Linked DNA regions of Homo sapiens: regions 1, 3 and 4 are each linked to region 2. The links come from fine-mapping of genetic effects on gene expression. A gene starts in region 2. Each other region holds a variant in brackets. All regions are shown on one strand. Distances are from middle to middle.

Region 1 (7,233 bases), 27 kb after region 2:
GGGGACAGTAGAAGGGGAAAGCCTTCATCTTGGCGAACCGGCCCCACCACCCCCTCCTACCCGGGCCTCCGTGCAGAGATGGGCTTTCTCTGCCAGTCCCCTGCTGTCTGTCTGTGGGAGTCGGACATTGTGCCCATCTCCCGGAGCCTCTGCTGTCACTCGCTTGTTGAAGATGAATTCTTGAATTCTGCCTGCCCACCCCCGGCCAGATCCCTGGAGCTGGCCTCCTTCCAGCCCAGTGCCAGAAACCAGCACTCCATGAAGATAAACTCTGGGCCCGCCCACCAGCAGGACCTGTCGACCTGAGGTGACCCTGGGCCTTGCCCCCAGCCAACTGGGCCACCAGCTTCCCTCCCTTGACTCTGGGGGTCCACATCCACTCCAAGGGGACTATTCCCCCGACCCCACCCCAGTCTCCCCACACGGACCTTTGCTGAATTAAAGTTTGTAAGTAAATGGTTTTAAAGAAATCAGAGTTGGCTGGTTCTTGGGACAAACAGTGGGCTTGAGTGGGAGGTCTGGGATGGCCCCGCGGGTTTACCTGAGATGGATTCCGCCCTGCTCTTCCCACCTGGTCACCGCAGGCCCTAAGCAAACATCTGCGCTTATGTTCCATTGATTATGGGCTTTCCCTCGCCTCCCTGGCGCGGCGCATGCTCAGTCGGTGAGTCACGTGATGCATGTCATGGCCGCCTCCATGGCCCGGGGAGGCGTGAGTGCCAGGGTTCTACTGCAGGCTGCCAGGGGCACCTGGTGGAACAGACCTGGGGGCACTTCCGGGTCGGGGGAGGGGGTGGCGCTGGGGACAACCAGAAAGTTTCAAGCGACAGGTACCTGGGGCGCCCGGGGCGGGCAGCGTTAATCCGTCAGATGCCGGCGGGGCGGGGCTCGGCGCAGCCGCTCACCGAACCGTGTTTTCCAGGCTCGCGCCCGGCTGGAGAGGAGGACGCGGGCGGCCCGGAGCGGCCCGGGGACGTGTGAGTGCAGGGGGCCAAGTCCCCCATTCCTCATCCCACGGAATTCCTCTGGTCCCCATCTTGCCCTGTAGCTTCATCTCGAGGTCCCCCTTCTGCTTTGCCCTATTCAGTACCTGTGCGTCAAGCCTCAATTCCTACTTCCTAACCCTAGATTCTACCCGGGCCCTGAGCCCATCATCCAGTTCGGCATTCGCACTTCCATCTGTCCCCAGGGTGAACGTGGTGTTCGTAGACCGCTCAGGCCAGCGGATCCCAGTGAGTGGCAGAGTCGGGGACAATGTTCTTCACCTGGCCCAGCGCCACGGGGTGGACCTGGAAGGTAGGAACCGGGCAGAGGGAATTAAGGAGGTCCTTATACATTTGTCCAAAAAAAAAAAAAAAAAAACCCACAAATTAGGTGTGTCTCTTCACGTCTTTTTCCCACCAAATATGGACTAAAATCCAAACCCCTCACCATGGCCTCATCTGTTGCCAAGCTCTTATTTGTTAAGCATTTATTAGAGATCACTAGGACTCCTGGCTCCCAGGATTTTGTGTTCTCTTCCCCCTTCCTCCCTGTATTCTAGCCACATTGGCTTTCTTTTTGTTGTTGTTGTTTTGAGATGGAGTTTCACTCTTGTTGCCCAGGCTGGAGTGCAATGGCTTACTGCACCTCAGCTCACTGCAACCTCCACCTCCCGGGTTCAAGCGTTTCTCCTGCCCCAGCCTCCAGACTAGCTGGGATTACAGGCGCCCACCACCAAGCCCAGCTAATTTTTGTATTTTTAGTAGAGACGGGGTTTCACCACATTGGCCAGGCTGGTCTCAAACTCCTGAAAGGTGATCCACCCGCCTCAGCCTCCCAAAATGCTGGGATTACAGGCATGAGCCACCGCGCCCAGCCCACACTGGCTTTCTTGTGGTTCCTCAAACAACCAAGCTCATTCCTGCTTCGGGGCCTTTACATTTGCTGTTCCCTCTGTCTGAAGTGCTTTCCCAGCAAACATTCTGGCTCTTTCTCATCCTTCAGACCTCAGTGTAAATGTCATGTCCCTAACAATCCCATTCCCCTCAGCCCAGCTGAAGTACCCATGCCCTAGTTACTCTGTCTTATCAGTGTGATATGATATATAGCACTTCTCACTTTTTTTTTTTCAAGAGACGGAGCCTTGCTGTGTCGCCAATGCTGGAGTGCCATGATGCAATCATACCTCACTGCAGCCTTGAACTCCTGGGTTCAAGTGATCCTCCCACCTCAGCCTCCCAAGTAGCTGGGATTATAGGCACAAGCCACAATGCCAGGCTGTTTTGTTTCCTACTTTGTCATCTGTCCCCCAGTGAGATTGGTGACCCATGTCCTTATTCATGCTTATCTGTTGCCTGTCAAGATGTAACAGATGTTTGATAATTTGTTGAGAGAAAAATAATAATAGAAATTTCTTGTCCAGGCACAGTGGCTCATGCCTGTAATCCCAACACTTTGGGAGGCCGAGGCAGGCGACTCACTTGAGGACAGGAGTTTGAGACTAGTCTGGCCAACATGGCGAAACCCTGTCTCTACAAGAAACACAAAAATTAGCTGGGCGTGGTGGCACATGCATATAATCCCAGCTACTTGGGAGGCTGAGGCACAAGAATCACTTGAACTTGGGAGGCAGAGGTTGCAGTGAGCCAAGATGGCACCACTGCACTCCAGGCTGCATGACAGAGCGGGACTCTGTCTCAAACAAACAAAAAAAAAAGGCCAGGCGCGGTGGCTCACGCCTGTAATCCCAGCACTTTGGGAGGCCGAGGCGGGCGGATCACGAGGTCAGGAGATAGAGACCATCCTGGCTAAAATGGTGAAACCCCGTCTCTAATAAAAATACAAAAAATTAGGTGGGCGTGGTGGTGGGCGCCTGTAGTCCCAGCTACTCGGGAGGCTGAGGCAGGAGAATGGCATGAACCCGGGAGGTGGAGCTTGCAGTGAGCCAAGATCACGCCACTGCACTCCAGCCTGGGCGACAGAGTGAGACTGTCTCAAAAAAAAAAAAAAAAAAAAAAAAAAAAAAAAATATATATATATATATATATATGTCTTTAACCATGTTAATAAATATTCACTGACTGAATCTTCATGACAACTTGAGTAGTAGAGACTGTTATTCCCTATTATAGATGAGGCAACTAAACCCCAGGTTAAGTAGACCTGGTCTAAGGGCAAGTGAGTGACAATACTAGACTCACCAGTCCATTGTAGCCACTAATCTGTGCTGCCTTTCTATGAATACCTACTGCGCGTCAGGCAGCAATATACAAAACAAATAAGGCCTCTGTCATCTCACATCCATTTCGGTCTAATAGGGACAATAATCCCACAGGTAAATACATAATTATGACCAACTTGGGAAGGGTTGTCTGGAAGAAAATATATAGGGTTTGCTTTTGGGATGAATATATCAGGGATCCTGATTTTATCATTAAAGGGGAAGATATGTTGGGAGGGGTTATGAAAGGCCTACCTAAAGTTCTGTTCTGGAATCCAGCAGCCAATAGTCTAGGACAGGGATTGGAATGTGAGATAGATTTATTTGTTCATTTATTTATCTGAGACAGAGTCTCGCTCTATCACCCAGGCTGGACTGCAATGGCATGATCTTGGCTTACTGCAACCTCTACCTCCAGGGTTCAAGTGATTCTCCTGCCTTAGCCTCCCGAGTAGCTGGGATTACAGGCAACTGCCACCATGCCCGGCTAAGTTTTTGTATTTTTAATAGAGATGGGGTTTCGCCATGTTGGCCAGGGTGGTCTCAAACTCCTGACCACAGTTGATCTGCCTGCCTTGGCCTCCCAAAGTGCTGGGATTACAGACATGAGCCACTGTGCCGGGCTAGTAGAGGTAAGTGGCCTGGCAAGGTGTGGTGGCTCACGCCTGTAATCCCAGCACTTTGGGAGGCTGAGGCGAGCGGATCACGAGGTCAGGAGATCAAGACCATCCTGGCTAACATGGTGAAACCCTGTCTCTACTAAAAATACAAAAACAAAATTAGCCAGGCATGGTGGCAGGCGCCTGTAGTCCCAGCTGCTCTGGGAGGCGGAGGCAGGAGAATGGCGTGAATCCGGGAAGCGGAGCTTGTAGTGAGCCGAGATCACGCCACTGCAGTCCAGCCTGGGCAACAGAGCGGGACTCCATCTCTAAGAAAAAAATTACAAAGGAAAACAAAGGAATGAATGAGGGGGATGGGGGAACTGCAAGACTAAGTGAAGGAGTTTGGATTTTATTCTGAGTGTGAAAACCCTTTGGAAAGTTTTAGGCCAGGAGGGACATGATCCCCAAGCACCGGTCTCTGTGATCAGAGGATGTGGGGGTGTGACCAAGGGCAGGTGGTCAGCAGAAAACTTCAGGTTCTGTCTCTTTCAACCCTAATTCCTGGTCTGGTGCAGTGGCATATGCCTGTAGTCCCAGCATTTTGGGAAGCCAAGGCAGGCAGATTGCTTGAGCTTAGGAGTTTGAGACCAGCCTGGGCCACATGGTGAACCTCGTCTCTACAAAAAAAAAAAAAAAAAAAAAAAATATGGCCAGGTGCGGTGGCTCACACCTGTAATCCCAGCACTTAGGGAGGCCGAGATAGGTGGATCACCTGAGGTCAGGAGTTCAAGACCAGCCTGGCCAGCATGGCAAAACCCCATCTCTACTAAAAATACAAAATTAGCTGGGCGTGATGGTGGGCACCTGTAATCCCAGCTACTTGGGAGGCTGAGGCAGGAGAATCACTTGAACCTGGGAGGCAGAGGTTGCATTGAGCCGAGATCATACCATTGCACTCCAGCCTGGGCAAAGAGAGCGAAACTCCACCTCAAAAAAAAAAAAAAAAAA[AAAT/T]TAGCCAGGTGTGGTGGTGCGCACATGTAGTCCCAGCTACTCGGGAGGCTGGGGTGGGAGGATCGCTTGAGCCGGGAGGTTGAGGCAGTAAGCTATGACTGAGCCATGGCACTCCAGGCTGGGCAACAGAGTGAGACCCTGTCTCAAAAAAAAAAAAAAAAAATCCTGGCCGGGTGCAGTGGCTTACGCCTGTAATCCCAGCACTTTGGGAAGCTGAGGCGGGCAGATCATGAGGTCAGGAGATCAAGACCATCCTGGCTAACATGGTGAAACCCCAGCTCTACTAAAAAAATATAAAAAAATTAGCCAGGCGTGGTGGCAGGCACCTGTAGTCCCAGCTACTTGGGAGGCTGAGGCAGGAGAATGGCGTGAACCCGGGAGGCAGAGCTTGCAGTGAGCCGAGATCGTGCCACTGCACTCCAGCCTGGGCAACAGAACAAGACTCCATCTCAAAAAAAAAAAAAACAAAATCCTAATGCCTGATTCCTTCCCCCACCACACTGACTGCTGAGTCAGCCGGTCCATCCTCCAAGAGCAGTGGAGAGGTGGGGACACATTAGCCCAGCACAGTGATAGGGTCACAGCAAGGGCTCACAGACTGCGGGGAGCCTGCCTGGCCTTTCCCCTCTCAGCTACCTGGCAGCCAAGTCCCTGCTCCTTAATGGTTCTGCATCTCAGCCTGCTAGGGAGTCCCTGGGAAATGGGGCCTCCCAGATGTCCGTTTGTAAACCCTACACACTGGGGAACAGCTAGCTGAGGACATTGAGGACATGACACAGTGCCTGGTACACACAGTGGAGCTGCAGGCCCAGGAGGGAGACGTGAGGCACGTGGTGGAAGAGAGGTCTACTCCTCTACGCCATTCGCATAGCAGCCCCTTCCTGACTCTGCCACTCACCTGCGCCCCCTTCACTTCCCACCCCTAGGGGCCTGTGAAGCCTCCCTGGCCTGCTCCACCTGCCATGTGTATGTGAGTGAAGACCACCTGGATCTCCTGCCTCCTCCCGAGGAGAGGTGAGTGGGTCAGCCCTGTCTAGCTGGCAGCTTCACCCTGGAGCATTCAGCAGCCCCCACCATCCTCCCCACTTCCAGTTCCTGGAATGGGAGCTGCCTCCCCCACCACTACCCCCTGCGCTCAGTCAGCTTCCTCCCTCCCCCACCTCTGGCCCCCCACCCACCCAGCTAGCTTGCCCTCGGCTAACACTGCCCGTGTCACCACCCTAGGGAAGACGACATGCTAGACATGGCCCCCCTCCTCCAGGAGAACTCGCGGCTGGGCTGCCAGATTGTGCTGACACCGGAGCTGGAAGGAGCGGAATTCACCCTGCCCAAGATCACCAGGAACTTCTACGTGGATGGCCATGTCCCCAAGCCCCACTGACATGAACACCTGGACCATTCCACATTGCCATGGCCCCAGGGCCCAGATTGAGGGAATAGCCAGGTGCCAGCCCTGCCCAGAGTGCGGACAGGCCCGGGAGAGACGTGGAAGCCCCTGTGAAGGACAACACCCCTGCTTGGGAGAGAGTCCCATGTCCAGGCTCTGGTGGGGACAGGGCCCCTAGTGGGGTGGCCTTCCCCAGGCCCCTGAGAATCAGGGTTTGAGTAGGAGTGGACTCATATTGGAGCTGCAATAAATCGATAACACAGGCCCCAGCATGTTGAGTGTCCTTGGGGGACAGATCTGGGGTCTACAGGTGGCTCACACCTGTAATCCTAGCACTTTGGGAAGCCAAGATGGGAGGATCACTTGAGGCCAGGAGCTTAAGACCATCCTGGGCAACATGGCGAGACCTCGTCTCTATAAAAACAGTAAAAATTAGCGTGGAGTGGTGGTAAGTGCCTGTAGTCCCAGCTACTCGGGAGACTGAGGTGGGAGGATCACTTGAGCCCAGGGGATTTAGGCTGCAGTGGAGCGGTGATCAGGCCATTCCACTCCAGCCTGGGTGACAGAGTGAGGCCCTGTCTCAAAAAAAAAAAAAACAAAAACAAAAACAAACCACACCTGCATCTGCTGTGCTGGGCCCCCGGTTCTCTTTTCCCTCTGGGATCTAAGATGCCGCTGGGGATCCAAGGCAGAGGCCTGGGAGCCCCCATTTCCGAGGGGGAGGGCTAGCGTGGAAGGCCCCGCCCCGGCAGCTGCGGAGGGATTTGGTGGGGTCCAGGCCGCCCTTGCCACGCAGGGGTGCGCGGATGACCTGAAAAAAGCCAGAAAGAGGAAAGGTGCCGCCGAGGCTGGTCGCTCTCAGCTGGGGCTCATCGCATCCTCTACCAAGAGCGCTCCCACCACACAGGTCCCGCCCCTCCCAGGTGGGTTTCATCGGGTGGGCCCAGCGGGACAGGGCCGGGTGAAATTAGGGAGGGGGCTGGGCTGGGGCGCAATGGAGGCCGAGCCAATCCCGGACTCCTCAATGCCAG
Region 2 (7,934 bases):
GAACCACCTCACTCCAGCCTGGGCAACAGAGTGAGAACCCATCTCAAAAAATACTGATAATAATAAGATCATCTTCAGAACTCAGTTCCTGGTGCATGAAGAGATTCAATACAGCCCCCTCACTCTCAGTTCTTAGAAAGAAGAATATGCCAGCCTGACCAACATGGTGAAACCCCCGTCTCTAATAAAAATACAAAAATTAGCTGGGTGTGGTGGCGCACGCCTGTGATCCCAGCTACTCAGGAGGCTGAGGCAGGAGAATCGCTTGAACCTGGGAGGTGGAGATTGCAGTGAGCCCAGCCTGGGAGACAGAGCAAGACTCATTCTCAAAAAAAAAAAAAGAAGAAGAATATGAAAGAGATAGGATCAATAACTACCTTCATTGTTTAATAGCCTAAGAGTGAAAGCCCAGCACAGTGGCTCACCCCTGTAATAATCCCAGCACTTTGGGAGGTTGAGTTGGGAGGATCACTTGAGCCCAGGGGTTCGAGAACAGCCTGGGCAATATGTCAAAAGCTCCTCTGTAGAAAAAATACAAAAATTAGCCGAGTGTAGTGGCACACACCTATAGTCCCAGCTACTAGGGAGGCTGAGGTGGGAGGATCACCTGAGCCTGGGAGGTCAAGGTTGCAGTGAGCCATGATTATGTCACTGCATTCCAGCCTGGGAGACAGAGCCAGACCCTGTCTCAGGAAGAAGAAGAAAAAAAAAAAAGCCAAATCTTTTTATCCCAGGATGTCTGAAAAGGACAGAGTCTATGGAGCATGGATGCAGAAAAGTAGTTATTCCTACCAGAAAAAAAAAAAATGAAATGTGGACACAGCCACTCAAGATCAGAGACTCAACCAGTGAAAGCAATTAGCTTCAATTTCATTGTCACCAGGAGGGCGCACACCAGAGAACCTGGGAGAAAGCCTGGGCTAGAGCCCTTAGCATTCTCAGTGTTACTGGTGCTGTGGTTCAACAACCTTTGTGGGAATGAGGAGAACCAGAGACCATCACCATCACACGTAAAAAGGATCCTATAGCAACAATGTGGCTGTCAAAAATCAGCTGGAGGCCAGGCGCGGTGGCTCACGCCTGTAATCCTAGCACTTTGGGAGGCCGAGGCGGGCGGATCACCTGAGGTCAGGAGTTTGAGACTAGCCTGGTCAACATGGTGAAACCCCGTCTCTACTAAAAATGCAAAAAATTAGCTGGGTGTGGTGGTGCATGCCTGTAATCCCAGCTACTTGGGAAGTTGAGGCGGGAGAATCACTTGAACCTGGGAGGCAGAGGTTGCAGTGAGCCCAGACTATGCCACTGCACTCCAGCCTGGGTGACAGACTGAGACCCTGTCTCAAAAAAAAAAAAAAAATCAGCTGGAGCTTAAATTATACATTGTTTGCAATCCAGACTGTACTTGCTTTCTTGTCAATGGCTTGAGATATGTGCAGAGGCCCCTTAAACATGTGTAGGTGACCTTTCTCTGTCGCCCAGGCTGGAGTGCAGGGGCACAATCTCAGCTAACTGCAACCTCCACTTCCCGGGCTCAAGCAATCCTCCCGCTGCAGCCTCCTGAGTAGCTGGGACTACAGGTGTGTGCCATCAAGCTTGGCTGATTTTTTTGTACTTTTTTTTTTTTTTTCGAGATGGAGTCTCGCTCTGTCGCCCAGGCTGGAGTGCAGTGGCGCAATCTCAGCTCACTGCAAGCTCTGCCTCCCGGGTTCACACTATTCTCCTGCCTCAGCCTCCCAAGTAGCTGGTACTACAGGCGCCCGCCACCATGCCCAGCTAATTTTTGTATTTTTTTTAGTAGAGACGGGGTTTCACCGTGTTAGCCAGGATGGTCTCGATCTCCTGACCTCGTGATCCGCCCGCCTCGGCCTCCCAAAGTGCTGGGATTACAGGCGTGAGCCACTGCACCTGGCCGATTTTTTGTATTTTTAGTAGAGACAGGGTTTTGGCATGCTGCCCAGGCTGGTCTGGAACTCCCGACCTCAAGGGATCCGCCTGTCTAGGCCTCCCAAAGTGTTAAGATTACAGGTGTGAGCCACCACGCCTGGCCCAGAAATACTCTTTTTTTTTTTTTTTGAGATGGAGTCTCACTCTGTTGCCCAGCCTGGATGGAGTGCAGTGGCGCGATCTCGGCTCACTGCAAGCTCCGCCTTCTGGGTTCACGCCATTCTCCTGCCTCAGCCTCCCGAGTAGCTGGGACTACAGGCACCTGCCACCATTTTTTTTTGTATTTTTAGTAGAGACGGGGCTAATTTTTTTTTGTATTTTTAGTAGAGATGGGGTTTCACCGTGTTAACCAGGATGGTCTCGATCTCCTTACCTCGTGATCTGCCCGCCTCAGCCTCCCAAAGTGCTAGGATTACAGGCGTGAGCTACCACACCTGGCCCAGAAATACTTCTTTATCAGAAATATTACTGGCGGGTGTAGCAGGGCACGCCTATAATCCCAGCACTTTGGGAGGTCGAGGCAGGCAGATCCCTTAAGCTTAGGAGTTCAAGACCAACCTGGGCAATATGGTGAAAGCCGTCTCTACAGAAAATTAGCCAGGCACAGTGGTGTGTACCTGTGGTCTCAGCTCCTAGGGAGGCTGAGGTGGGAGGATCACTTGAACCCAGGAGGCTGAGATTGCAGTTAGCTGAGATTGTGCCCCTGCACTCCAGCCTAGGCGACACGGTGAGACTCTGTTTCAAAAAACAAAAAAGAAATATGACTTATTTACAAATATTTCTTTCTTTTTTATTTTTAGAGACAGGGTCTCACTATTACGTAAGTATTATAAATTATATATATATGTTTGTTTGTTTGTTTGTTTTTCTGAGACAGAGTCTTGCTCTGTCACCCAGGCTGGAGTGCAGCGGCACAATCTCCACTCACTGCAACCTCCGCCTCTTGGGTTCAAGTGATTCTCCTGCCTCAGCCTCCTGAGTAACTGGGACTACAGGTGCCCGCCACAATGCCCAGCTAATTTTTTATATTTTTGGTGGAGATGGGGTTTCACTGTGTTAGCCAGGATGGTCTCGATTTCCTGACCTCGTCATCCACCTACCTCAGCCTCCCAAAGTGCTGCTAGGATTACAGACGTGAGCCAGTAAGTCCGACATCTTTTTTTTTTTTTTTTTTTTTTGTGGAAACAGGGTCTCACTGTGTCTCCCAGGCTGGAGTGCAGGGGCACAATCTCGACTCACTGCAGCTTTGACCTCCCAGGCTCAAGCGATCCTCTCACCTCAGCCTTCCAAGGAGCTGGGACTACAGGCACCAGGCCCATGCTACTGGTCCCTGCTGTTTACAAATACACTAGACTTGGGTTTTAGCTGCTCTCTCAACACCAGGTGGGAAATGGATTGTTCGGAAGGTAGAGGAATAGAGGAGGGACCTGCTTAGGAAGGTGGGGGTGCTCTAGATGAGAGAGGAGGTGCTGTGACCTCAAGGTCTGGGGAAAGTGGGTGAGTGCAGGGCCCCATCAAGGCTCTCAACAAGGCCTCTCTCTCTGGAGCTCAGATGTGAAGCCCAGAAGGCAGGTCAGAGGCCTGAGGTCAGAGGCAGGTCAAAGGTGGGGGTCCCACCTGGTCCCCTTGGCGCCTTCCCTTGGAATGCAGTGACCAGCTGCCTGGAAGGGTGGGCAAGGGGACAACAGGATGGGGTAAAGGCCAGTTACAAGTAGAATCCTGGAAGGCCGGGCGCAGTGGCTCACGCCTGTAATCCCAACACTTTGGGAGGCCAAGGCGGGCAGCTCACTTGAGGTCAGAAGTTTGAGACCAGCTTGGCCAACATGGTGAAACCCCGTCTCTACCAAAAAGTACAAAAATTAGCCGGGCGTGGTGGCACATGCCTGTAATCCCAGCTACTCGGGAGGCTGAGGCAGGAAAATCGTTTGAACCCGGGAGGCAGAGGCTGCAGTGAGCCGAGATCCCGCCACTGCACTCCAACCTGGGTGACAGAGTGAGACTCTGTCTCAAAACAAACAAACAAAAACCAAGTAGAATCCTGGATAGACAGTGGCTCAGGGACTCAGCTGTCCCCAAATCACCTACCTTAGCTCTTTGTGCAGGGGATGGGGGATCCCCAAGATCTTCAAAGATAGGGAGGTATCCTCAAGATCTTCAAAGGTGGCCAGGCGTGGTGGCTCACGCCTGTAATCGCAACACTTTGGGAGGTCAAGATGAGAGGAGGCCATCTTAAGGCCAGGAGTTCAAGACCAGTCGGGGCAACATAGCAAGACTCTGCTTCTGTTTCTGTTTTTGTTTTTGTTTTTTAATGTTTCCTCGAAATCCCACCTTAACATCTACACAATGGTGCCTACAGTTTTCCCCATTAACTTCCTCTCTGGGGACAGAATATTCCCCTACCCACCTAAGTTCAGCCAGAAGGAGATGCCTCATCCCCCCCACCCAGGCTTCCCAGTGCTGAGAACAAAAGAAACCAGTTTAGTTAGCATTTCCTGTGAATTCAAATGGGGGCCAGCAGTGCAACTGGGACCAGCCCATTCCCTGGGGGAGACTCAGCAGTGCTGGCCACTTTGCAGAGCCCCGTCTGGGTCCCCCACCCTGGCCCCCAAGGGCCACAGCATCCCCTTCCACCCACAGGCCTGGGCAAGGTGCAGTCCCCAGACTTCTGCAATCTTAACCGCTGTGCTTCCGTCGCAGTGGGAGGCCCCGCCTTTTCCCCTGCCTGCCCTTCGGGCACCTCAGGAAGGCACCTTCCTCTGTCAGAATGGCCACCATGGTACCATCCGTGTTGTGGCCCAGGGCCTGCTGGACTCTGCTGGTCTGCTGTCTGCTGACCCCAGGTGAGACCAGTCAAGCCGGGGAGGGCTGGAGAGGGCTGCGTTTTGGGGATCAGTAGAGGGTAGAGGAATAGAACGCAACGCTGTTCACATCCTGCCACACTGCGACCTGGCCGCTGACTCTGTATCCTCGGGAGAAAGTTCTGGTTCCTTAGTTCAGCCTTCAGGTGGTCAGGCCCCAGCATAGGCTTGTACGCCATCCCTCTCCCCTAACACACACACACACACCCCTCATGCTTCCTGCTCCATCTGAACTCCTGAAATTTGCCCTTTGCGTATGTGCTTCCCTCTGCCAGGATCACCTGTCCCTTTCACTTGCTAACTCCTACTTAGCCTTCAGTTTCGGGCTGCAATGGTCCCCGCTTCCAGGAAGCCTTCCCTGACTCACCTCCTCCTATGCTGGATCAGAGCCTCTTCTGGCCTCCTTCTGAGTTCTCCCCGGTCTCTGATGGATTCTACCTTTCCCACTGGACCATGAAGGCAGGAACCCTTCTGTCTCGGCACAAGGAGAGAGGTGTTAAATGGTGGGGCCTGTTGATGCGTGGGTTGGGGGACAAGGAAACAAACACCAGGACTTCTTCATGTTCCTGAAGGTGTCCAGGGGCAGGAGTTCCTTTTGCGGGTGGAGCCCCAGAACCCTGTGCTCTCTGCTGGAGGGTCCCTGTTTGTGAACTGCAGTACTGATTGTCCCAGCTCTGAGAAAATCGCCTTGGAGACGTCCCTATCAAAGGAGCTGGTGGCCAGTGGCATGGGCTGGGCAGCCTTCAATCTCAGCAACGTGACTGGCAACAGTCGGATCCTCTGCTCAGTGTACTGCAATGGCTCTCAGATAACAGGCTCCTCTAACATCACCGTGTACAGTGAGTCGACGTGTCCGGAGGTGGGACTGGTCTTGGGTAGTGGTGTGGGCAAGTGGCCAATGGCTCAGGAGAGTGGGGACCCTCAGTTTGCAAAGAATGGACCACAGTTCTGACCCAGAGCTCAGACCTGGACATTTGTGTGTGAGATACAAAGATAGACAGAGACAGAGACACAGAGACAGAGACAGAGATATAGAGACGCATCTCAATCTCATGCCAAGGCAGCAGTTGTGAAATCAATTAACTTGGGCCCCAACAAGCATTTTTTTTTTTTTTTTGAGACAGAGTTTCGCTCTTTTTGCCTAGGCTGGAGTGCAGTGGCACGATGTCGGCTCACTGCAACCTTCGCCTCCTGGGTTCAAGTGATTCTCCTGCCTCAGCCTCCCGAGTGGCTGAGATTACACATGCACGCCACCACACCCAGCAAATTTTGTATTTTTAGTTGAGATGGCATTTCACCATGTTGGCCAGTCTGGTCTTGAACTCCTGACCTCAGGCGATCCGCCCACCTCAGCCTCCCAAAGTGCTGGGATTACAGGCATGGGCCACTGCGCCCGGCCCCAACAAGCTTTTTTTTTTTTTTGAGATGGCGTCTCTTACTCTGTAGCCCAGGCTGGAGTGCAGTGGTGCAATCTCGGCTCACTGCGACCTCTGCCTCCCAGGTCCAGCTAATGCCCAGCTAAGTTTTGTATTTTTAGTAGAGACGGGGTGTTCCGCCCACATCAGCCTCTCAAAGTGCTGGGATTACAAGTGTGAGCCACTGCGCCTGGCCCCAACAATAATCCCAACACTTTGGGAGGCCAAGGCAGGAGGATTGCTTGAGTCCGGAAATTTAAGACCAGGCAGAGCAATATAGGGACACCCCGTCTCTACAAAAATAAATAAAAAATATTAGCTGGGCATGGTGGCACATGCCTGAAGTCCCAGCTACTTGGGGGACCAAGGTGGGAGAATCGCTTGAGCCCAGGAGTTCAAGGCTGTAGTGAGCTATAATTGCACCACTGCACTCCAGCCTGTGCAAAAAAGCAAGACCCTTGTCTCTTAAGCAAAAAAGGGGGTACCCCTTTCAGTCAGCAGTAGGCAAATGGAGGTTTTACATTTACACTTTTTTATACCTTTATTTTAGAGACAGGATCTCCCTATGTTGCCTAGGTTGGTCTCAAACTCCTGGGCTCAGGCAATCCTCCCACTTCAGTCTCTCCAGTAGCTGGGATTGCAGGCCTGGCTACTTTTTTTTTTCTTTTCTTTTCTTTTTTTTTTTTTTTGAGACAGAGTCTCACTCTGTCCCCCAGGCTAGAGTGCAGTGGCGCAATCTTGGCTCACTGCAACCTCTGCCTTCCGGGTTCAAGCGATTCTCCTGCCTCAGCCTCCTGAGTAGCTGGGATTACAGGCGCATGCCAACACGCCCAGCTAATTTTTGTATTTTTAGTAGGGACAGGATTTCACCATGTTGCCCAGGCTGGTCTCAAACTCCTGGCCTCAAATGATCTGCCCGCCTTGGCCTCCCAAAGTGCTGGGATTATAAGCGTGAGCCACCATGCCTGGCCTACTTTTTGACTTTTCTTTTCTTTGAGACGCAGTCTTGCTATTGTCCCCCATGCTGGAGTACAATGGCGCGATGTCAGCTCATTGCAACCTCCGCCTCCTGGGTTCAAGTGATTCTCCTGTCTTAGCCTCCTTAGTAGCTGGGATTACAGGCGTGTGACACCATGCCCGGCTAATTTTTGTATTTTTAGTAGAGACAGGGTTTTGCCATATGGGCCAGGTTGGTCTCAAACTCCTGACCTCAAGTGATCCGCCTCCCTCGGCCTCCCAAAGTGGTGGGATTACAGGCATGAGTCACCTTGCCCAGCCTTTTTTTTTTTTTTTTTTTTTTTGACATAGAGTCTCTCTCTGTCGCCAGGCTGGAGTGCAGTGGCACTATCTCAGCTCACTGCAAATTTTGCCTCCTGGGTTCAAGCGATTCTTGTGCCTCAGCCTCCTGAGTAGCTGGGATTACAGGCACGTGCTACCATGCCTGGCTAATTTTTGTATTTTTAGTAGAGATGGGGTTTCACCATGTTGGCAAGGCTGGTCTTGAACTCCTGGTCTCAGGTGATCCGTCCACCTTGGCCTCCCAAAGTGCTGGGATTACAGGCATGAGCCACAGTGCCCGGCCTGAGGCCCAGCGTTTTGTAGGTGTACTGGGGAGGGCACCCAGCCTGGGAGTGTCAAGTCTCCTGTGACTGTGCCGGAGTATCTTGAGAGGCTGCCACAGGGCTGGTGAACCAGGAAAGCCCTGAGTGTCTGAACC
Region 3 (7,607 bases), 360 kb before region 2:
GGATCACGATGTCAGGAGTTCAAGACCAGCCTGGCCAGTATGGTGAAACCCCGTCTCTACTAAAAAAATACAAAAATTAGCCGGGCGTGGGGGTGCGTGCCTGTAGTCCCAGCTATTCGGGAGGCTGAGGCAGGAGAATCGCTTGAACCCGGGAGGCGGAGGTCGAGCCACGATTGCGCCACTGCACTCCAGCCTGGGCGACAAAGCGAGACTTCATCTAAAAAACAAAAACAAAAACAAAATCAAAACAAAAACATTAACATGGTGTGGTGGCACGCCCCTGTAGTCTCAGCTACTCAAGAAGCTGAGGCAGGAGGATCACTTGAGCTGAAGAGTTGGAGGCTGCAGTGAGCTATGATTGGGCTACTGTACACCAGGCTGGGCAACAGAGTGAGACCGAAACCCTAAAAAAAAAGATAATAATAATATACAATATTATATAGTAATTGTTATCATTACAACTGGATCTGATATCTGTCCTGGCCAGCAGAGAGCGCTATTGTCCCAGAAGATGTCCTTTCAATTGTCTTAAACTGAGCTACTCTGGCCAAGAGGGTGTCTAAGGGAGCCTCAAGCCCCCTATCCTGTAAGAAAGGCTAAGGATGCCGGTTGCCCAGATGGTGGGGCATCCTTAGTAAGGCCACACCCGGAAAACCCGCCTGGAAAACACCCCTGCCCACCAGCAAGCCAACCTCAGGGCCTTTGCACCTGCCTTTGTCTACAACACTCATCCTTTCTTTTCTATTTCTTTTCTTTCTTTTCTTTTCTTCTTTTTTTTTTTTGAGACAGAATCTCACTCTGTTGCCCAGGCTGGAGTGTAGTGGCACAGTCTCAGCTCACTGCAACCTCCGCCTCTCAGGTTCAAGCGATTCTCCTACGTCAGCCTCCCAAGCAACCGGGATTACAGGTGCCTGCTGCCACACCCGGCTAATTTTTTTTTTATTTTTGAGATGGAGTCTTGCTCTGCTTCCCAGGCTGGAGTGCAGTGGCACAATCTCTGCTCACTGAAAGCTCTGCCTGCCAGGTCCACGCCATTTTCCTGCCTCAGCCTCCTGAGTAGCTGGGACTACAGGCGCCTGCCACCACGCCCAGCTAATTTTTTGTATTTTTAGTAGAGACCGGTGTTCACCATGTTAGCCAGGATGGTCTTGATCTCCTGACCTGGTGATCCACCTGCCTTGGCCTCCCAAAGTGCTGGGATTACAGGCGTGAGCCACCGCACTCGGCCGTTTTTTGTTTTTTTTTTTTTTGAGACGGAGTTTTGCTCTTGTTGCCCAGGCTGGAGAGTGCAATAGTGCAATCTTGGCTCACTACAACCTCCACCTCCTGGGTTCAAGTGATTCTCCTGCCTCAGCCTCCTGAGTAGCTGGGATTACAGGCATACGCCACCACGCCTGGCTAATTTTTTTGTATTTTTAGTAGCGACAGGGTTTCTCCATATTGGCCAGTCTGGTCTCGAACTCCTGACCTCAGGTGATCCTCCCACCTTGGCCTCCCAAAGTGCTGGGATTACAGGTGTGAGCCACCGCGTCCGGCTAATTTTTGTTTTTAGTAGAGATAAGGTTTCACCATGATGGCCAGGCTGGTCTCAAACTCCTGACCTCAAGCGATCCACCCATCTAGGCCTCCCAAAGTGCTAGGATACAGGTGTGAGCCACCGTGCCCAGCTAATATTTCTATTTTTCAAAATGTTTACCAGGCGCAGTGGCTCACGCCTGTAATTCCAGCACTTTGGGAGGCCAAGGTGGGTGGATCATATGAGCCCACGAGTTAGAGACCAGCCTGGGCAACATGGCAAAAAAAAAAAAAAAAAAAAAGTTAAAAAATTACCCATAATTCCAGTTACTTGGGAGACTGAAGCAGGAGGATTGCCACAGCGCCTGGCCAATATGTGTTTAAGTCTGCTTCTTGCCAAGCTTTCTGTGTTATTCTGATGCCCACTCGTTTCAGAACCACTGTTTTTCACTCTTGGCTGCACATAGAATTACCTGTGGAGTTTTTAACTATCTCTATGCCCAGACAACTTAAACTAAAATCTATGGTGAGTAGCTTATGTACTTTGGGACGATGAAGTAGGAGGATTGCTTGAGGCCAGAAATTAGAGTCGCCCAGGCTAGGGTGCAATGGTGCGATCTCGGCTCACTGCAACCTCCACCTCCCGGGTTCAAGAAATTCTCCTGCCTCAGCCTCCTAAAGTAGCTGGGATTACAGGCGCCCACCACCATGCCCAGCTAATTTTTTGTATTTTTAGTAGAGACAGGGTTTTGCAATGTTGGCCAGGTTGGTCTCGAACTCCTGACCTCAGGTGATCCACCTGCCTCAGTCTCCCAAAGTGCTGGGGTTACAGGTGTGATCCACTGCACCTGGCCGATCATCTCTTAAAAAAAAAAATCTATGGGGATGAGACTCAGTCATCAATTTTCTTTTGTTTTTTGTTTTAAGCCTCAAGGAATTTCTGTGTGCAGCCAATGTTGCCTCTCAGTGGTTTAGGTTCCAAAAACAGCATTTCATTATCTTATCCAAAGTGAGTCTCTTTCTTTTCTGGGTGACCTTATCTTGGAGCTCTGACCTGCCTGCAATTCTTGGTTATCCAAAGCTTCTGGGATGTTGGAGGGAATCCTCTGCATTTTAGAATGCAATCACCATGATTGGATGAATGGCTGATTGGATTAAGGGTTGCCTGGATTTGCTGTTCTGAAGCTAGTATAGCCCCTTCTTTTCTTGGCCACCTAACACCTGACCCCGCTCATACACCCCTGCATTGAGAGAATGTCATATTTTTTAAGGCTAAGCCTGCCTTTCCATAGAAGTTATAATTGACAGTTACTTTCCCAGCCTGCCCTGCAGCCAGGCTGCACAAGGCTCAGGTTCTGCCATTCACAATTTGGATCAAAAGCCAGTGGTGGTGGCCGGGCACAGTGGCTCACACTTGTAATCCCAGCACTTTGGGAGGCTGAGGCGGGCGGATCACCTGAGGTCGGGAGTTTGAGACCAGCCTGGCCAACATGGAGAAACCCCATCTCTACTAAAAATACAAAATTAGCCGGGCATGGTGGCATATACCTATAATCCCAGATACTAAGGAGGCTGAGGAAGGAGAATTGGTTGAACCTGGGAGATGGAGGTTGTGGTGATCCGAGATCGTGCCATTGCACTCCAGCCTGGGCAAGAAGAGTGAAACTCCGTCTCAAAAAAAAAAAAAAAAAGAAAAAGAAAAAGAAAAAAGCCAATGATAAGGAGAAACAGGCCCTTGGGCTCGAAAACACTAGGGACAGGAGTTGGAGGCAGCTACATCCATGTCACAGAGATTCATGAAAATAAGAACAGTTTATGTCAAAACTGAAGCTACACTCAGGAAGTTTATAGGTGGTTGCACATCTGGTCTCCAGCCACAGTAATCCTTGTAGCATCAACTACAGTCTCTGTACTTAGTCATTGTGAGATTGGGCTATGTGTGGGGTTGGCGTTGGGGTACCACCACTAGCTGTGTAGCCCCTGATGCTGGTTCTCTGCCCCTCCTGGAGATCACTGTGCCACCTGACATTCTTCATTACACACTTTTCAAGCATAGACAAACGGACAGAGAATTGCATAGTTATCACCTTGTAACCAATGACCCAGCTTCAACAATTATCAAAAGAGGCTTAATCCACCCACTTAAACAAATATATTCTAGTCCGGATGCAGTGGCTCACGCCTGTAATTCCAGCACCTTGGGAGGCTGAGGCAGGTAGATCGCTTGAGCCCAGGAGTTGGAGACCAGCCTGGGCAACACGGCGAAAACCTCTGCTGTACTAAAAATACAAAAATTATACGGGCGCAGTGCTGCACACCTGTAGTCCCAGCTACTCGGGAGGCTGAGGCAGGAGGATAGCTTGAGCCCGGGAGGTGGAAGCTGCAGTGAGCTATGATCGCACCACTGCACTCCAGCCTGGGCAACAGAGCAAGATCCTGTCTCGAAAAAACTAAAAATAAAATTATATACATACATACATATA[G/T]AGAGAGGTCAATGTGTTCAGTAGGACAGGATAGTCAGGGCTGGGCTCACTGAGACGGTGGGATTTGAGCCTGAAAGGAGGATGGAGGAGTCATGCGGAATCGGAGAGAGCACTCCAGGCCTCGTGAACAGTTAAGAGCAAAGGCCTGGAGGTGGGAATGTGTCTGGATTGTCTGTTGTGAGCGCGGAGGTCAGTGTGGCTGGAGGTGAGCGGATGAGGGTGTGGAGGTGACGGCATGAAATCGCGGGAAGCCTTGGGCTTTCCTCTGAGCTGGATGGGACGGTAGGGCTTTCTCAGCCAACGTGGAGGGAAGTGGGCTCTACCTATTACCAAGAGATAAACTGGGGATAGGGCGCAAAGGAGGCTTAGTGGTCCCTGCTTTAGGGTGTTGGCACCGCCCACTTAGGAGAGCTGGGGGCGCCGTGAGCCTGCAGCTAGAGGCGGCGCTTGGTGTGCGGCTTCAGCACAGTGGACAGCGCCGTACGCGTTGCCTGGAGACCAGGAAAGCGGCCGCTCAGGGAGCGGAGCCTGCGCAAGCGCCCTATGAGGAGCGGCGCGCTCCACGCAGTGGCACACTCTGTGGGGGCGGGGCCTGCGAGTCCGGCCAATTAGAAGAGTTTGTTGCCGGGCGTGGTGGCGCTTGCCTGTAATCCCAGCTACTCAGGAGGCTAAGGCGGGAGAATTGTTTGAACCAGGGAATCAGAGGTTGCAGTGAGTGAGCGGAGATCGCGCCACTGCACTCCAGCCTGGGCGACAGCGAGACTCCGTCTCCAAAAAAAAATTTTGTTGACAACCCCAGGACGAAGAGAGTTTATACACAGGGCAGGGCCTGCGAAATCCCATCTGGAGTTGGAGCTTGTTGATTGCGCAAAGGAAGGAAGGAAGGGGCGGTGGGCACCCGGAGCCTAGAGACCGGCGGGAAGTTTGGAAGCGGTGGTTTGCAGCAGCTAGGCCTGGGGCGGTTTCCGCGCTCTTCACATGGAGGCTTGCGCAGCACCCAGGGTCGTGACTGGGGCTGTCAGATCCCGAAACTTGCCTTCTCTGGGATCGCCCGCGACTGCTCAGGGGAGCCCCCAAACAGGGGACTATATGGTTGGCCTTAGGGAGCGGGTGCTGAGGTCCTGGGTCCAGGATACGGACTTCTGAGCACTGACTGAGGAATACAGAACATTCAGGAGAGGAGAGTTAGGGGTTTTGCTGAAATAATGGTCCTTGGAGCCCTGAGTTCGGGTGGTCGTCTCGATAGCCTGGAGGATTTCTCCAGTTTATTCATCGGACGTGTGGGGACCGTCCCTCTGTGACATTGCCACCCACCTACTGCCCTGTTGCCAAGCAAGAAGACCTTAGGCGCCAGATCTTTTGAGAAGACAAAAGCACTGGCCCAAGACCTGGGAGTTCATGGACTTCTTGGCTACTCCGTGGAGAGAATGCTGGTCTCCCTGAGAATGAGAAGGACGGGCCCCTTTTCTTTGACATACCGTTTTTAACCCTCTTGAGTCTAGAAACTCTTCCCTTATCAAGACCAGTGGACTCAGCTGCAAAAATCACTGTAAACCTCAGCTCCGATGTTCCAAAAGTCAAGCCTCTTGTCGTCTCCAGGGCCCCCATTCTCACCTCTCCCATACACCTACTCAGCTCAGCAACCAAAAGAACTGTACTGAGGCGCGGTGGCTCACAATGGTTAATTCCAACAGTTCGTGAGGCTGAAGAGGGGATGGCTTGAGGCCAAGAATTGGACATCAACCTGAGACCCTGCCCCTATGAAGAAAAACAAACATTAGCCAGGCAGTGAGGCCTGTAGTCCTAGATACTCAGGAGGATGAGTGAGCCATGATGGCACCACTGCATACCAGACCGAGACCCTGTCTAAAAAATAGTTTCAGCTGGGAGCGGTGGCTCACGCCTGCAATCCCAACAATTTGGGAGGCTGAGGCAGGCGAATCACAAGGTCAAGAGTTCAAGACCAGCCTGGCCAACATGGTGAAACCCCATCTCTACTAAAAATCCAAAAATTAGCCAGGCATAATGCTGGGCACCTGTAATCTCAGCTACTCGGGAGGATGAGGCAGGAGAGTAACTTGAACCCGGGATGCGGAGGTTGCAGTGGGCCGAGATCACTCCAGTGCACTCCAGCCTGGGCAACAGAGCGAGAGACTATCTCAAAAACAAAACAAAACAAACAAAAAAACTGTAGGCCAGGCGCCGTGTGGCTCACGCCTGTAATACCAGCACTTTGGGAGGCCAAGACGAGTGGATCACGAGGTCAAGAGTTTGAGACCAGCCTGGCCAGCAAGGTGGAACTAAAATACAAAAATACTAAATACTAAATACTAAAAATACTAAATACTAAAAATACAAAAAATTGGCTGGGCGCGGTGGCTCACTCCTGCAATCCCAGCACTTTGGGAGGCCGAGGCAGGCGGATCATGAGGTCAGGAGATCGAGACCATCCTGGCTAACACGTGAAACCCCGTCTCTACTAAAAATACAATTAGCCGGACGTGGTGACAGGCACCTGTAGTCCCAGCTAATCGGAAGGCTGAGGCAGGAGAATGGCGTGAACCCGGGAGACGGAGCTTGCAGTGAGCGGTATCATGCCACTGCACTCCAGTCTGGGCGACAGTGAGACTCCGTCTCAAAAAAAAAAAAAGCCGGACATGGTGGTGCATACCTGTAATCCCAGCTACTAGGGAGGTTGAGTCAGGACAATCACTTGAACCCAGAAAGCGGAGGTTGCAGTAAGCGGAGATCATGCCACTGCACTCTAGCCTGGGTGATAGGGCAAGACTCTGTCTCAAACAAAAGTTAGCTGGGCATGGTGTCACACACCTGTAGTTACCGCTTCTCGGGAGGCTGAGGCAGGAGAATTGCTTGAACCTGGGAAGCGGAGGTTGCAGTGCGCCGAGATTGCTCCACTGCACTCCAGCCTGGCGACAGAGCAAGACTCCATCTTAAAAAATAAACAGCCAGGTGCGGTGGCTCACACCTGTCATCCCAGCACTGGGAGGCCGAGGCAGATGGATCACCTGAGGCCGGGAGTTCGAGACCAGCCTAACATGGAGAAAACTTGTCTCTACCAAAAATACAAAATTAGCCAGGCTTGGTGGCACATGCCTGTAATTCCAGCTACTGAGGAGGCTGAGGCAGGAGACTCGCTTGAACCCGGGAGACGGAGGTTGTGGTTAGCAGAGATCGTGCCATTGCACTCCAGCCTAGGCAACAGGAGCGAAACTCCATCTCTAAATAAGTAAAATAAATAAACAAATATATACTCTTGGGAGCCTGAATGGGCCTGAAGTCTTCCCAGGTCAGAATCCATCCATGGCTCCCCACTGTCCTTAGAAAGAAGGCAAGAACTCCTGTGCCTGGCACTCCACTTGGGGGCCCTCAAGATCCCACTGACCTCCAGCCTCATTTCCCAGCATTCCTTTGTTTTGCATCAAAATGCTCTACCCACCTGACTTCAGCTTCTTGAAGCCCATCCTCATCCCCCAGCTGAATTTTTGCTCAAGCTATTCCCTCTGCCTGGCCTCCCCTTCCCTTCCTAACACTCTTGGGTCCAACTCACCCATCCTCTCACCTGAGGGGAAAGCCTTGACAGGCACTTCC
Region 4 (7,934 bases), 60 kb after region 2:
TATAAGCTGGCCGGCCACCTCCAGGGTTGCAGAGCAGGAGAAGCTGCGCCCGTTGTCCTCTGGGGTGGCCTTCAGCAGGAGCTGGGCCCTCGGGCCCAGTGGCTGGGCTGGAACCCCATTCAGCGTCACCTTGGCTCTAGGGTGGGCCTCACACTTCACTGTCACCTCGGTCCCTTCTGAGACCTCTGGCTTCGTCAGAATCACGTTGGGCGCCGGAAAGCCTGGAATAGGCACACAGTGAGCCCCGCCCCGGGTTCAGGTCACACCCCCAAGAAGCCCCACTCCGCCCCTGCCCCTTCTTACTGTAGATGGTCACTGTCTGCAGTGTCTCCTGGCTCTGGTTCCCCAGTATTACTGCACACGTCAGCCGCTGGGTGCCCTCGTCCTCTGCGGTCACACTGACTGAGGCCTTGGCCGAGAAGGAGTCGTTGCCATAGGTGACTGTGGGGTTCAACCTCTGGTCCCCCAGTGCCAGGTGGACCTGGGCCTCCGAGACTGGGAACAGCCCGTCCAGGGAACAGACCACGGTCCCCTGCGTGTCCACCTCTAGGACCCGGGGGCTGACAAGTTGTGGGGGAGTCGCTGGCAGGACTAGGGAGAGAAGAAAGGTGTGAGCAGACAGGGATGGACGTCCCGAAGCCCTTCTCTGGGGCATTTCATTCCCCCTCCTGCGAGATCCTCTTCCAGGGCCACTCAGCAGCCTAGGTCACATACGCCTAGAACACATGCACCCCTTAGCCGGGGCCACACCCATCTCAAAAGATCCTGTGGCCACAGGCACCGCATTGCAGGATACCCCACCCCCACCTTCTCCCTGCTGGCTTCTTCAATCCTCACCAAAGGTCTGGAGCTGGTAGGGGGCCGAGGTGTTCTCAAACAGCTCCAGCCCTTGGGGCCGCAGGTCCAGTTCAGTGCGGCACGAGAAATTGGCTCCATGGTGATCTCTCCTCACCAGCACCGTGGTCGTGACCTCAGCGGGCTCCCCCACAGCTGGCTCCCGTTTCAGCTCCTTCTCCCCACGGAGCAGCACCACGGTGAGGTTGGCCCGGGGTGCCCCACCCTCCACCTGGCAGCGTAGGGTAAGGTTCTTGCCCACTGGCTGCCAAGAGGGGAGGGGTGCCAGTTCCACCCGTTCTGGAGTCCCTGCAGGAAAACAGAGGTGGGGGTGTCTGGTGAAGTGGACCTTGCTGCCTGCCTAACAGACGAACTGCACCTGCCTGGGAGCCCTACCTCTTCAGTATCTCCCCCAAACACGCCCAGACACCTAAGCAGATAGGAATGTCAAGATCTTCAGTGAAAACTGGTAAGAGGGCCCCGAGTGTTTGTGAAGGGGATCAAAATATTCCTTATTCATGACAGCAGCATCTTAGAGTGAAAAGTGGAAAAGAACTTCAAAGTCTATTGCTAGGTGTCTGGTCAAATAAATTCAGCAGCCCAGTGCACTAGACTGGGCAAACAGTGGCTCGATCTTGGCTCACTGCAACCTCTGCCTCTGGGATTCAGGGGATTCTCCTGCCTCAGCCTCCTGAGTAGCTTAGATTACAGGCACACACCACCACACCAGGTTAATTTTTGTATTTTTATTTTTAATTAATTAATTAATTAAGTTTTTAGACTGAGTCTCCTTCTGTCGCCCAGGCTGGAGGGTGATGGCATGATCTTGGCTCACTGCAACCTCTGCCTCCTGGGTTCAAGCAATTCTCCTGCCTCAACCTCCTGAGTAGCTGGGATTACAGGCACGTGTCACCACACCCAGCTAATTTTTGTATTTTTAGTAGAAACGGGGTTTCAGCATGTTGCCCAGGCTGGTCTCGAATTCCTGACCTCAAGTGATCTGCCCACCCCGGCCTCCCAAAGTGCTGGGATTACAGGTGAAAGTAAATGAGCCTGGCCTAGACATTCTTTAAAAAACAAAACAAAACAAAAAAAAAAACCTGTTGGCCAGGTGTGATGGCTCAGGCTGTAATCCTAGCACTTTGTGAGGCCAAGGCAAGAGGGTCACTTGAGGCCAGGAGTTCAAGACAAGCCTGGGCAACATAGGGAGACCCCCATCTCTAAGAAAAATTAAAAAAAGGTTGGCAGGGCGCGGTGGCTCACGCCTTTAATCCCAGCACTTTGGGAGGCCAAGGAGGGTGGATCCACGAAGTCAGGAGTTCGAGATAAGCCTGACCAACAGAGTGAAACCCCGTCTCTATTAAAAATACAAAAATTAGTCTGGCATGGTGGTGCACGCCTGTAGTCTCAGCTACTCGGGAGGCTGAGGCAGGAGAATCTCTTGAACCTGGGAGGTGGAGGTTGCAGTGAGCTGAGATCGTGCCACTGCACTCCAGCCTAGGTGACAGAGCGAGACTCCATCTCAAAATAAATGAATGAATGAATGAATGAATGGTTAACTGGGTGTGGTGGTGCACACCTGTAGTCCCTGCTACTTGGGAGGCTGAGGCAGGAGGATCACTTGAGCCCAGGAGTTTAAGGCTATAGTGAACTGTGATCATGCCACTGTACTTTAGCCTGGGAAAGAAAGACCCTGTTTCTATTAAAAAAAAAAAAAAGTCAGTAATGACAGAGTCTAATAACAAAAAGGCTGCGTGTGGTGGCTCACGCCTGTAATCCCAACACTTTGGGGGGCCGAGGCAGGCGGATCACCTGAGGTCAGGAGTTCAAGACCAGCCTGGCCAATATAGTGAAACCCCGTCTCTACCTAAAAATACAAAAATTAGCCAGGCGTGGTGTTGTGTGCCTGTAGTCCCAGCTACTTGAGAGGCTGAGGTTTACTTGTGAGGAAAGGATTACTTCAGCCCAGGAGGCAGAGATTGCAGTGAACTGAGATCGCGCCACTGTACTCTAGACTGAGTGACAGAGTGAGAGTCTCTCTCAGAGGAAAAAAAAAAAAAAAAAAAAAGCATCAGGACCGGGGGGGTCCTGCATTTGATACCCAGCCTTGCTTCTTTGCTGTGGGTAAGTGACTTTGTCTCTCTGAACCTCAGTTTCCTGAACTGTAAAATAGGGCTATTAAAGGTAGGAGAATTCACTTAAGAGGTAGACAGAGTCGCTGTACATAAGCAGGAGGTTTCTTTTTTAGAGTGATTGAAATATTTTAAAATTAGATTGTAGTCATGGTTGTTTGTACAGAAGTCATTGAATTATGTGCTTAAAAGGGATGAATCTTATGGTATTCTAAATCGTATCTCAAGAAAGCAAGGCTGGGGCATGGTGGCTCACATCTGTAATCCCAGTACTTTGGGATGCCAAGGCGGGGTCATTTGAGGCCAGGAGTTCAAGGCTAGCTTGGGCAACATTGCAAGACCTCATTTCTCCAAAAAAAAAAAAAAAAATTAAAAACAAGCTGGGCTTCGGCATGGCGTGGTGGCTTATGCCTGTAATCCCAGCACTTTGGGAGGCCAGAACAGATGGATCACCGGAAGTCAGGAGTTCAAGACCAGCCTGGCCAGGCCAGACATGGTGGCTCACGCCTGTAATCCCAGCACTTTGGGAGGCCAAGGCGGGCGGATCACGAGGTCAGGAGATCAAGACCATCCTGGCTAACACGGTGAAACCCCGTCTCTACTAAAAATACAAAAAATTAGCCAGGCGTGGTGGTGGGCGCCTGTAGTCCCAGCTACTCAGGAGGCTAAGGCAGGAGGATGGAGTGAACCCGGGAGGCGGAGCTTGCAGTGAGCCCAGATCGAACCACTGCACTCCTGCCTGGGCGACAGAGTGAGACTCTGTCTCAAAAAAAAAAAAAAAAAAAAAAAGGCCGGGCACGGTGGCTCATGCCTGTAATCTCAGCACTTTGGGAGGCCGAGGCAGGTGGATCATCTGAGGTTGGGAGTTCGAGACCAGCCTGACCAACATGGAGAAACCCTGTCTTTACTAAAAATACAAAATTAGCCTTGTGTGGTGTCGCATGCCTGTAATCCCAGCTACTCAGGTGGCTGAGGCAAGAGAATAGCTTGATCCTGGGGGTCGGAGGTTGTGGTGAGCTAAGATCCTGCCATTGCACTTCAGCCTGGGCAATAAGAGCGAAACTCCGGTCTCAAACAAACAAACAAAAAACACCAAAGAAAAAAAAAAAACCAGCTGGGCTTCCTGCTGGCTCACACCTGTAGTCCCTG[C/T]TACTCAGGAGGCTAAGGGTGGGAGGAGGATTTCTTGAGCCTGGGAGTTTGAGGCTGCAGTCAGCTACGATTGTACCACTGCACTCCAGCCTGGGTGACAAAGTGAGACCCTGAGACCCTGTCTCTAAAAATAAAACAGAAAGCTGTTAAGCTGTTAAAAACAAAAACAAAAAAATATATATATATATAGTCAAGAAAACTCTGACCTCCAGCTCTTCTCTCTTACCACCTCCTATAGACTCTTGCAGAACTTGAGGTACCCTCAAACCTCAGCCCCTAGAGGAAACCCAGCTCAGCTGCCTGGTGCAGCGGGGAGGAAGTCTGTCCTGCTCTCACCTCTTCTTGACCCTGACCTGCAGTCCTTTACCAAATCCTGGTCACTGAAGTATTCAAATACTTGTCTGTCCTTCCCTTCTTGAATACGGTCACTGCCCACAACATGGGCCGCGTGGACAAGGACCATAGCCAACTGCTCATTGGCTTCCAGTAAATCCAGCCTTCAGCTATCTAATCCCTGGCCTGCTCAGAAACCCTCCATGACTCCCTATCACCCCAAGAAGGAAAGTCCCAGCTCCTCCACCTGGCATTCAAGGCTCTGCCAACCTCACCCTTCCTCCCATCAATCAATTTTTTTTTTTTTTTTAGGGGCAGTGTCTCTCTCTGTCACCTGGGCTGGAATGCAGTGGTGCAATCATAGCTGACTGTAACCTCAAATTCCTGGGCTTGACCAGGCTCAGTGGCTCACACCTATAATCCCAGCACTTTGGGAAACTGAGGCAGGAGGATCTCTTGCGGTCAGGCGTTCAAGACCAGCCTGGCTAACATGGTAAACCCTATCTCTACTAAAAATACAAAAAAATTAGCTGGGCATGATGGTGGGCACCTTAATCCCAGCAACTCGGGAGGCTCAGGCAGCAGAATCGGTTGAACCCAGGAGGTGGAGGAGGCTGCAGTGAGCCAAGATGGCACCACTGCACTCCAGCCTGGGCCACAGAGTGAGACTCCATCTCAAAAAAACAAAAACAAAAACAAAAAAATTCCTGGGTTCAAGTGATCCTCCCACTTGAGCCTCCAGAGTAGTTGAGAATACAAGCATATGCCACTGTACCCTAATTTTTTTATTTTTTCTTAGAGACAGGGTCTCGCTATGTTGCCCAGGCTGGTCTCGAACTCCTGGGCTCAAACAATCCTCTTGCTTTGGCCTCCCAAAGCACTGGGATTACAGGTGTGAGCCACTGCACCTGGCCTACACCAACCTACCTCCTCCTCCTCCTGCCTCCATCAAGATTTCTCCCTGCTCCCAACTTTTGCCCAGGCTGTTCCTCCTGCCCAGAATGCCTGTCCTTATGAACTCCTACACATCCTTCAAAGCCCAGCTAGTGGTCGCCTCCTCTAGGAATTACACCTCTAACCTTTTTGGAGAAGATTGAGCCATCCAGGGAGGCTTCTTTATGTTTACACCAGGGGTGGGGCAAGACCAAGCTAGAGTCTCTCTCAGGTACCACCCTCCCACATAACTTTTACTCCTTTGCTACCTGTGCCAGCCATCTGCTCCATTTCACAGAGGTAAAAACTAAGGCAAAGTGGGGCACCCACAGTCATAGAGGGAGAAATGTGGCAGAGCCAGGTCTCAAACCTGGAGTTCTATGCTCTCAGCTATCAGGCAGAGCCGCGCGTGGTGGCTCAAGCCTGTAATCCCAGCACTTCGGGAGGCTGAGGCGGGTGGATCACCAGAGGTCTAGAGTTCGAGACCAGCCTGGCCAACTTGGCGAAACCCTGTCTCTACTAAAAATACAAAAATTAGCCAGGCGTGGTGCCAGGTGCCTGTAATCCCAGCTACTGGAGAGGATGAGGCAGGAGAACTGCTTGAACCCGGGAGATGGAGGTTGCAGTGATCCAGCCTGGGCGACAGAGCAAGACTGTGTGTCAAAAAAAAGAAAAAAAAAAAAAAAAAAAAAAAGACCTATCAGGCAGAGATGCAGAAAAGACCTTCAAAGAGGTTTCCCTGGGGTTTCCAGAAGCTGCTGGGAATGTTCGGGGACTTCCCTCACCTGGGAAGGTCAGCATCTGCTCACCCACCCTCCAAATCAGAAGCAAAGCTGATCATTTGATCATTTACCCAGAGGCTTCCTTGCCCTGACACAATGATAGGAGAACATCCTTTGTCACTCACCGTGTCATTTTCCCCATCAGAGGAGGTCTCACCTGATTGCAAAGTAAATGCAGAAGTCATGTCCCAAGCTATTAAAGGCCTTGCTGGGACTGGAACCCAAGGCTAATCCCAAAGCTACTTGGCCAGTTTTTATTTTTTAGAGACAGGGTCTTTCTCTGTCACCCAGGCTGGAGTGCAGTGGTGTCATCACGGCTCACTACAGCCTGGACCTCCCAGGCTCAGGTGATCCTCCCACCTCAGCCTCCTGAGTAGCTGGGACTACTAGTATGCCAGCACGCTTGGTTAGGTTTTTTATTTTTTGTAGATATGGGGTCTTGCTATGTTGCCCAGGCTGGTGTCCAACTCCTGGCCTCCAAGCGATCCTTCTACTTCGGCCTTCTAAATCACTGGGATTATAGGCATGAGCCACGTGCCTAGCCTGCCCAGTGCTCTTCTGTTTTTTCTTCTTTGATTTTGTTTTGTTTTCATTTGAATTCCTTATTTTGGCCTTGATAACTCTTTCCCACCATTCGAAGTCCCCAAAGTAGGAAGGACGCAAAGAGAAATTCTCGGCTGGGGGCAGTGGCTCACGCCTGTAATCCCAGCACTTTGGGAGGCCGAGGCGGGCAGATCACAAGGTCAGGAGATCAAGACCAGCCTGGCCAACATGATGAAATCCCGTCTCTACTAAAAATACAAAAATTAGCCGGGCGTGGTGCTGGGCGCCTGTAATTCCAGCTACTTGGGAGGCTGAGGCAGGAGAATTGCTTGAACCCGGGAGGGAGAGGTTGCAGTGAGCTGAGATTACACCATTGCACTCCAGGCTGGGGACACAGCAAAACTCCATCTCAAAAAGACAACAACAAAAAAAGAATTCTCAGCCAGGCAAAGTGGCTCACGTTGTAATCCCAGCACTTTGGGAGGCCGAGGCGGGCGGATCACCTGAGGTCAGAGTTCAAGACCAGCCTGACCAACATGGAGAAACCCTGTCTCTACTAAAAATACAAAATTTGCCAGGCGTAGTGGCCCATGCCTGTAATCCCAGCTAGTCGGGAGGCTGAGGCCGGAGAATCACTTAAACTCAGGAGGTGAAGGTTGCGGTGAGCTGAGATCGTGCCATTGCACTCCAGCCTGGGCAACAAGAGTGAAACTCTGTCTCAAAAAAAGGAAAAAACAAAAAGAATTCTCCACACCCAAGCCCTCTCCCACAGCCTCCCAGCCTCTCTTCTCATAGCCAGCTAATATTGTCATTTCTCCCACTTCCTTTTAGGGCTATTTTATACATAAATACAGCCTCCCCGAAACTGCCCTTCCCTAATGTGAGGGTGGCATACCACTCATATTCAACATACCTTCTTTTATTTCTTTTTTTTTTTTTTTTGAGATGGAGTTTTGCTCTTGTTGCCCAAGCTGGAGTGCAGTGGCGCAATCTCAGCTCACCGCAACCTCTGCCTCCCAGTTTCAAGAGATTCTCCTGCCTCAGCCTCCCGAGTAGCTGGGATTACAGGTATGTGCCACTATGCCTGGCTAGTTTTTTTTGTATTTTTAATAGAGACGGGGTTTCTCCATGGTGGTCAGGCTGGTCTCGAACTCCTGACCTCAAGTGATCCGCCTCCCTCAGCCTCCCAAAGTGCTGGGATTACAGGCGTGAGCCACCGTGCCCAGCC

The links. PIP is the estimated chance that this variant, and not a neighbour inherited with it, causes the effect.
Region 1: its variant is fine-mapped to the expression of ICAM3 in whole blood (INTERVAL, PIP above 0.99).
Region 3: its variant is fine-mapped to the expression of ICAM3 in whole blood (INTERVAL, PIP above 0.99).
Region 4: its variant is fine-mapped to the expression of ICAM3 in whole blood (TOPMed, PIP 0.94).

Annotation. Positions count from the first base shown.
Region 1 is chr19:10,309,449-10,316,681 of GRCh38, reverse strand. ZGLP1 (zinc finger GATA like protein 1) reads left to right here and starts at 6,867. Exons shown (of 5, transcript NM_001409033.1): 1 at 6,867-7,233. The coding sequence starts at 7,197. It overlaps FDX2 (ferredoxin 2), which reads left to right and starts at 667. Exons shown (of 5, transcript NM_001397406.1): 1 at 667-830; 2 at 923-977; 3 at 1,190-1,296; 4 at 5,742-5,829; 5 at 6,040-6,637. The coding sequence starts at 686. The coding sequence ends at 6,196. FDX2-ZGLP1 (FDX2-ZGLP1 readthrough) reads left to right here and starts at 667. Exons shown (of 9, transcript NR_176052.1): 1 at 667-830; 2 at 923-977; 3 at 1,129-1,296; 4 at 5,742-5,829; 5 at 6,040-7,233. It overlaps RAVER1 (ribonucleoprotein, PTB binding 1), which reads left to right. Exons shown (of 13, transcript NM_133452.3): 13 at 1-470. RefSeq lists a silencer at 913-1,032. The variant AAAT/T (reference allele first, on the strand shown) is at 4,813.
Region 2 is chr19:10,336,389-10,344,322 of GRCh38, reverse strand. ICAM3 (intercellular adhesion molecule 3) reads left to right here and starts at 4,699. Exons shown (of 7, transcript NM_002162.5): 1 at 4,699-4,784; 2 at 5,375-5,641. The coding sequence starts at 4,709. RefSeq lists enhancers at 3,101-3,848, 3,849-4,596, 4,690-4,739, 4,960-5,059, 5,345-6,093.
Region 3 is chr19:10,692,828-10,700,434 of GRCh38, reverse strand. No RefSeq gene overlaps it. Among named protein-coding and RNA genes, the nearest start is that of QTRT1, 4.8 kb to the left of the region's middle. RefSeq lists a silencer at 4,373-4,632 and an enhancer at 4,589-5,088. The variant G/T (reference allele first, on the strand shown) is at 3,999.
Region 4 is chr19:10,276,690-10,284,623 of GRCh38, reverse strand. ICAM1 (intercellular adhesion molecule 1) reads right to left here. Exons shown (of 7, transcript NM_000201.3): 3 at 838-1,143; 4 at 304-591; 5 at 1-221. It overlaps LIMASI (lncRNA inflammatory and mucous response associated, antisense to ICAM1), which reads left to right and starts at 1,174. Exons shown (of 4, transcript XR_007067138.1): 1 at 1,174-1,303. The variant C/T (reference allele first, on the strand shown) is at 4,116.